Homo sapiens: one gene and its partner. The protein of the gene in region 1 purifies or fractionates together with the protein of each later gene. This does not show direct contact. Each region holds a gene or a part of one and is shown on either strand. Other genes may lie near its edges.

Region 1 (4,297 bases):
GGGCTGTGCCCCACAGTGATTTTAAGCAAGTGCCTGCTTGTTTTATGGGGATCAAAGCTCATTTCTCCCGATGTTTAAACATCTAGTTTATTGTGGTCCGGAGAAGTAATTTTCACTTAAACATCAAAGTCAGTTCCAGAGTTTAACGAGTGTACCTGAAAGTAATGCTGGAAAAATACCTCTGATGTATTTCTGTAGATGTGTGGTTATGGCAATCTGTTGGCATAACTCAGAACAGCCTCTCCACATAGAATTGTCAAATAATTTCTTCGTGTAATTATGTTTGGGAGTATGGTTGGGGACAACGTACTGGATATGAGTCAACGTGGAGGGGTCAACAGAATTACTGCTTTCAGGGCATTAAGGAAACTCAATAGGAAACAATACCCATTAAAAGGATACACTTGTGCAACAAGATTGTCGTTTATCTTGACCTGTTTTAGAAAACACGCAACAGAGGCCCGGCGCGGTGGCTCTCGGCACTTTGGGCGGCTGAGGCGGGCGGACCATTAGGTCAAGAGATCCAGACCATCCTGGCCCTGTCTCTACTAAAAATACAAAAATTAGCTGGGCGTGGTGGTGGGAGCCTGTAGTCCCAGCTATTCAGGAGGCTGAGGCAGGAGAATCGCTTGAACCCGGGAGGCGGAGGTTGCAGTGAGCCATGATCACACCACTGCACTGCACTCCAGCCTGGCGACAGAGTGAGATTCCCTCTCCAAAAACAAAACAAAAAACAAAAAACAAAAAACAAAAAAAAAACGCAGCAGAATAAGGACAAAACTCACGTCCTTTTAAAAACGCATCTCTTTGCCTTAAAAGGCTGCAGTGATCCTTCCCTGGCAAAAATAAAAAACCACAACTGCTTTGCACTTTGATATTTACGGCCAGGCAAAGCCTGTGTAAGTCTTCGAGAGCCGCCGGCAACAAAAACCGTGGAGCGCACCCAGCAAGTTGCTCACTCCGCCGCGGACTGCGAAAGGAGCAGGGTTGCGGAGCTAGGGCTCCAGCCTGCGGCCGCGCATTCTTGCGTCTGGCCAGCCGCGAGCTCTAAGGGTCGGCCCCGCCCGGTCCGCCCCCGCGGCTCCCTGCCAGGCTCTCGCGGGCGCGCTCGGGGTGGGGCCTCGCGGCTGGCGGAGATGCGGCCGGGGCTGCGCGGTGGTGATGCGAGCCTGCAGGGCGGCGCGCCGGGGCAGCCGGAGCCGCGCGCCGCGGCGCTGTAATCGGACACCAAGAGCGCTCGCCCCCGGCCTCCGGCCACTTTCCATTCACTCCGAGGTGCTTGATTGAGCGACGCGGAGAAGAGCTCCGGGTGCCGCGGCACTGCAGCGCTGAGATTCCTTTACAAAGAAACTCAGAGGACCGGGAAGAAAGAATTTCACCTTTGCGACGTGCTAGAAAATAAGGTCGTCTGGGAAAAGGACTGGAGACACAAGCGCATCCAACCCCGGTAGCAAACTGATGACTTTTCCGTGCTGATTTCTTTCAACCTCGGTAAGCTAAATTGGTCATTTTCCGCATTACAGATTTAGCAAAGTATAACTTTTTTGGCCTGTATATTGATTTTTCATACATTGGTATGCTCAAGCCTGGACATTTTCTTAAGAACACACGCGGTTTGTCAGGGAAGCTTTCCCCTTGCTGAGAGCCCTGCTCGAGTTGTTTCTTTAGGCGGTGACACCTGCGGAGAGTTTCAAGTTGAGTATTACAGTGCCTTCAAAGGCAAAATTGCTCCAGAGGAGATAAGAGAATTCTTTTCTTAATGTGTTGTTAGTTTGCGATCAGCAGAAGTGAAAACACCAAGAGGAACGTCTGTGTCTGAGTTAAAGGGAAGAAGTTGTAAGATACTGTTGGGGAGGCGGGGGTGTATTTAAGACACTTGGCTTTCAGTCTTTCACTCCTCATCACTAGGTGGGATGTAAATCAAATTGCCCTGTAGACTATCTTCGTTTCACCTGCCATTGTATCACCAGTATTCTTTGCAATTGGTTGTATATGTACTTTTGGGAGAAACATATAAGGTAAGATACCAATATGTAAAAAAAATGTGTAAATAATATCAACTTGCTCAGTAAACATAACAAAGGTTAGGCATATTAATAGTTTTTTTCTTTTGGCTTTAACTATGAAGTCAACAGAACCAAGGGGTAAATTACTGAGGGAAAGTCACCCATAAAATCAGTTTCTTTCTAAGTTAATTTAGGGATGACAGGGTGAAGAGGTTGTGGAAGCAGGAAGAAACTGTTTCTTTTGAAAATTACCAACACAAACATCTCTAGAGTTTCCTCCATCTGTGTGGTAAAAGAAGCGTACAATTTCATTTCTAACTCTCATAACATATGCACCACCTAGGAAATCTACTTACAATTTTTGTTTAAAATTGCATATTCCATTTAATTCTTTTTATTCTGTATTAATGAAGCTGTCTTTTTCAGTTGTTAGTGGTTCTTACAAAGAATTTAATAATTTTGACTATGAAATTTTAATTTGAAAAGCCAAATAATGAAGATCAGCATTGTTGTAACCTGTAAAAATAAATTTCTTTACTGGACTCTTGGGTCACTTTATTGTGTAATTATGGTAGAAGCAAAATGATTGTGTTTCTTTAATGGTCCTGAGTTTATTTTACATGATGTAGCCACTAGAGCTCCTGTAGGTTTATGGTAACACATTATCTGGTCTTCCTTGGGATTCAGATATTAGTTAATAGCATGTACCAATTTTATATCTATAGTTTGAAGCAGTGACACCTGTCTCTTTGATTTATCTTTGGGAATTTTGACAGCCCACATTCTGGTTGATTTATTTAAAATATGCATTGGTGGATACATGGCTCACTGGATTGCTCACCACTAGGTCATTGGTTTGAATTTGGCACTAGTCCATGGTTACTTCAACTGCATCATTTAACAACTGCCTGTTGGTCATCTGGATAAAATGGCAGATAACTGATTCCAGTGACTTCAGTGATCCAGGATTGAGCACACATAGATTTATGTAAGGAAACACCACTTCCAGAGACAATTACTCCAAAAGAGCTAATGACTATTGAAGTGAGTAGGTACACATGAATGCTCATGTGAGATTTTGCTGCTGCTGTTACGTTAGTGGGGGGAAAGAGTTCTCATCCAGTAATATTCTTTTAGCTCAATTCTATTCAAGTCTTTTTAATGTAATGGATTTCTAGAGAGAAGATCCGTTAAAATATTGGGCTTTCCTTTGGGTATCAGTGTTTTTCTTCACTGCTTTGTTCTGTTTTGATGGTAGCATCAATTTGCTGGAAGATGAAAGTTTCTCTTGTTGCAAAGACTTCCAGACACAAATGAATCAAATCCACATTTTCACATCTGAGAAGCAAAGACACAGCACCTCCTACTGTTTGCATTACTGTAAAAGTTCAGATGGTTCTTTTGTGAATAGGGTGTTTTGTCTAGATTGCTGTTTTTTCCTACTCCTAAAATGTGAAATGAGATATAACAAACATGTTGTCTCTCTCTTAAAGGTATTTTCCCTTGGATATTAACTTGCATATCTGAAGAAATGGCATTCCGGACAATTTGCGTGTTGGTTGGAGTATTTATTTGTTCTATCTGTGTGAAAGGATCTTCCCAGCCCCAAGCAAGAGTTTATTTAACATTTGATGGTAAGAGAGTTGATAAACACTCTGGGAAAAATGTTATTTTAAGTTTTGTTATCTTCCTTATCCAGATTCAGAAATTAAGAGTATAAATATTACTGGATATTAATTTTAAAAATATTTACTGGGCTGCGTTTTGGAGGACAATAGCTATTTTAAATGATTGGTTAATAGACAAAGATCCTCTGTTGGATTTGAGGTATTTATGAAAATGCTTATAATATATGCTGCTTTTTGTAAAATAATTCTTCTGTGCTTGCCTGTGTACTCACAGAGGAGATGGGCACGAGCTCAAAGCCTAGCATCTTTGATCTTACTGTTCACCTGGTAATGTTAAGAAATTGCCCCTTTGTGCTAATCCTCAGCAGCAGAGAGAGCTATGCAGGTTCAATTACTAAAAAATTCTCCCAATTAATTTTTTGGGCATTAGTCTCAAAACTGGTTACTCCGTGTGTTGTTCTAATGGTGTTTCTTCTTTTTCCACAAGGATTTCCTGAGATTGGCATAGTCCCCTAATTAATTGAAAAGGACCTAAAAGAATAATTGGAAATATGCTTTTGATGGTTGTTGTATACAAATGTTCTCAGAAGCTTAGGGAAATGGGTGTGATTTCAGATTTTCACATACATAAAAGGTGCAAGGTCTTCTGAGGGAATGGTTTGC
Region 2 (3,819 bases), on another chromosome or scaffold:
TTTTAGTTTTCTTTGATTGGAATCTTTGTTGATCAGAACACCATTAAGTAAACCCCAGGCATATTGTGCGTTAACATTTTCATCCCGTTTCTAGTACCAGGTAATTAGGCTCAAAGCTCCCATGTTAACAATTTCTCCTGTTCCACTCCAAAGAAAACAAGTCCCCAGTGACTGAGCTGCAGAGCAGTGCAACTGTCTCCAGTTAAACTACCAGGGCTGCAAAGATGCTGATTATTAGTAAATGTCTTCTATTTGGCATGACAGACATGGTTTCTCGATTTGAGCCACACTCTGTTTACATGTCAGCAGCAAGCATTCTCTTGTTCTAAAAAATCACTCCTTCTTTACTGAAACTACTGTAGACTTTGGGCAAAATTCGTTTCACTTGAAGATTTTCCATATGGGAGAACAAACACATGCATAAACCATGCCAGATCCTGGAAACAGCACCACGTAGAAGGGCAGCCATGAAGGTTTTTCTTGTGCCTGTTTTGGGGTTAGGTACATGCACTGGGAATGGTAAAATCCCCTTGCTAGACTAATGTGTGACTAAGCATTTTGCAAAACTTAATGATCACCTATCTAGCCAAGGACTGTAAACACAGATTACAATCTAGGACAGATGGGGCTGCATGAAATCTGAGTTAGATGAGCAAGGAACCTCCCAGTTGATCCAGAATGGGTTGTTTCCACGTGCTAAGCAGTCTGTCAGAAGCCCCAGCGCCCACTCCCCTCTACCACCTCCCACACTTCTGTTCCCAACAATGAGTCAGATATGACAGGCAAAACTGGGGTGTGTGATTTGCTCCTGTTTCGTTCCTTTCTATTTTTCTGTCTGCTTTCATCTGGTCTGTTGGCGGTGCTCACGGAGACAATATTGTTTTTTTCCATAGGGAGCACGCCAGGATACGAAGGTGAAGGAGAAGGTGACAAGAACATCTCCAGGAAGCCAGGCAATGTGTTGAAGACCTTAGACCCCATCCTCATCACCATCATAGCCATGAGTGCCCTGGGGGTCCTCCTGGGGGCTGTCTGTGGGGTCGTGCTGTACTGTGCCTGTTGGCATAATGGGATGTCAGAAAGAAACTTGTCTGCCCTGGAGAACTATAACTTTGAACTTGTGGATGGTGTGAAGTTGAAAAAAGACAAACTGAATACACAGAGTACTTATTCGGAGGCATGAAGGCAGACAGAGATGAAAAGACAGTCAAAGGACGGAAGTGGAAGGACGGGAGTGAGCTGGGGAGCTGTTGATCTTTCACTATACAGGCTGGGAAGTGTGTTGATGACCACTGAGCCAGGCTTTTCTCAGGAGCTTCAATGAGTATGGCCGACAGACATGGACAAGGAGCTGTGTTCACCATCGGACTCATGTGCAGTCAGCTTTTTTCCTGTTGGTTTCATTTGAATAATCAGATGCTGGTGTTGAGACCAAGTATGATTGACATAATCATTCATTTCGACCCCTCCTGCCCCTCTCTCTCTCTCTCCTCTCCCCTTTGTGGATTCTTTTTGGAAACTGAGCGAAATCCAAGATGCTGGCACCAAGCGTATTCCGTGTGGCCCTTTGGATGGACATGCTACCTGAAACCCAGTGCCCAGAATATACTAGAATCACCGCATTTCAGTGGACTCCTGAAGTTGTACTTGTGTATAATTGCCCGCGTCGTGCATAGGCAAAGAAGGATTAGGCTGTTTTCTTTTTAAAGTACTGTAGCCTCAGTACTGGTGTAGTGTGTCAGCTCTGTTTACGAAGCAATACTGTCCAGTTTTCTTGCTGTTTTTCCGGTGTTGTACTAAACCTCGTGCTTGTGAACTCCATACAGAAAACGGTGCCATCCCTGAACACGGCTGGCCACTGGGTATACTGCTGACAACCGCAACAACAAAAACACAAATCCTTGGCACTGGCTAGTCTATGTCCTCTCAAGTGCCTTTTTGTTTGTACTGGTTCATTGTGTTACATTAACGACCCACTCTGCTTCTTGCTGGTGAAAGCCCTGCTCTTTAATCAAACTCTGGTGGCCCACTGACTAAGAAGAAAGTTTATTTTCGTGTGAGATGCCAGCCCCTCCGGGCAGGCAAGGGCTCTGAAGATTTGGCAACGTGGCTTAATTGTTCTGCTTTTTCTGTAGTTCAATTTCATGTTTCTTGACCCTTTTGTATAAAGCTACAATATTCTCTCTTATTGTTCTTTCATATGGAATGTATTTTCAAATGTAAACTCTCTTCTCTTTCTCTCTCCTATCTCTCTGTCTTTTTTCTCTCTTAGAATTGGAGGATTTGCCATTGTCCAGGAAAGAAACTTGCAGCTTTAACCTGCTGGGAATGGCAAACGATTTTACTAGACTTTATGTTTAAAAATAAATAAATAAGGGAAATTCCTAACTTTGCCCTCCAAAGTCTAACTTTGGTTTTCTTGTTAACTGGTTAAAGTGACAGTATCTTTTTTCCTTATCTATTCTATTCAAAATGACCTTTGATAGAAATGTTGGCATTTAGTAGAAATAGTGATAAGTTGAGGAAAGAAATAATACAAATTGGCTTTCAAGTGAGACCCAAAGGAAGAACTGGATAAAATCTTCCAAATCCAAAAGCATGAGATTTTTCTATCCAAATATGCAAAAATGACCCAAGAGAACTTTCTTATTTTGCTACTGAGTCACACAAGGGAAGTGGAAGGAAGAACAGTTAATTTAAGAATGAAACTATAAATCCTGATGCCTGGGGGTCAAGTATTTTAAGATAAGAGGGGGAAAAACACATAAAGTCAAACAAATGTTTTAAAAATTCATAACAGCAACCTTGAAAAAATAGACTTAAATGAATGCTTCTAGAAACTTCCAGCGGCTCACAAAGAATAAGCCTGCCTTAGGGCTGGCAACATCTAAGCCTCTAACAGCACAGGGAAGCAAATATCTTACCAGGCAGCCTATGAATTAACCCAAAGAAGCTTTGGTTGGTTTTGGTGGATTTTTATCATGCCATGTTGGACATGAGATTTTTTAGATCTTCCTTCCCACATTGCTAGACGTCTCACTCAAAGACATTTGTTGGGAGTCACATTTGCATCATAGACGAGACAGTCCATTCATCTTAGTTAAATTGGATTGAGAATGCCTTTTGTTTCCAGGAAAATATTGATCACCATGAAAGAAGAATAGTTTTTTGTCCCCAGAGACATTCATTTAGTTGATATAATCCTACCAGAAGGAAAGCACTAAGAAACACTCGTTTGTTGTTTTTAAAGGCAACAGACTTAAAGTTGTCCTCAGCCAAGGAAAAATGATACTGCAACTTTAAAATTTAAAGTATCTTGCACTGATAAATATATTTAAAAATTATATGTTTATAAAGTTATTAATTTGTAAAGGCAGTGTTACAAAATGTTCAGTTTATATTGTTTTAGATTGTTTTGTAATTTTTAAAGGTGTAAAATAACATATTTTTTCTTTATGGAAATCTATAAAACTTTCTGTAGTAAAATGTTTTCATTTTACTGGTATATTATTGCTTCATGTTTTGTACCATCATAAGATTTTGTGCAGATTTTTTTTACAGAAATTATTATTTTCTATGACAATATGACACTTGTAAATTGTTGTTTCAAAATGAACAGCGAAGCCTTAACTTTAAATGACATTTGTATTCTCAGACACTGAGTAGCATAAAAACCACATAGAACTGAACTGTAACTTAAATTCCAAACTATGACTACTACATTCCAAAGAAACAGTTGAATTAAACATTTTCATAAAATATCCCACACCTGATGGCTTTTATTATATTAGCACTGTTCTAGTTAAAGAAGTTGGTGAC

What was found.
Region 2: the proteins of SEMA3C (region 1) and NRP1 purify together in Homo sapiens (co-immunoprecipitation; one large-scale study listed by IntAct). This does not show direct contact.

The regions. Positions count from the first base shown.
Region 1 is NC_000007.14:80,916,022-80,920,318, reverse strand, and holds the start of SEMA3C (semaphorin-3C isoform 2 precursor), read left to right. Parts: upstream 1-1,267; 5' UTR 1,268-1,491; intron 1,492-3,499; coding exon of another isoform or gene 3,500-3,537; coding exon 3,538-3,640; intron 3,641-4,297. UniProt on the Homo sapiens protein: Binds to plexin family members and plays an important role in the regulation of developmental processes. Required for normal cardiovascular development during embryogenesis.
Region 2 is NC_000010.11:33,177,440-33,181,258, reverse strand, and holds the end of NRP1 (neuropilin-1 isoform a precursor), read left to right. Parts: intron 1-893; coding exon 894-1,183; 3' UTR 1,184-3,766; downstream 3,767-3,819. UniProt on the Homo sapiens protein: Cell-surface receptor involved in the development of the cardiovascular system, in angiogenesis, in the formation of certain neuronal circuits and in organogenesis outside the nervous system. Mediates the chemorepulsant activity of semaphorins.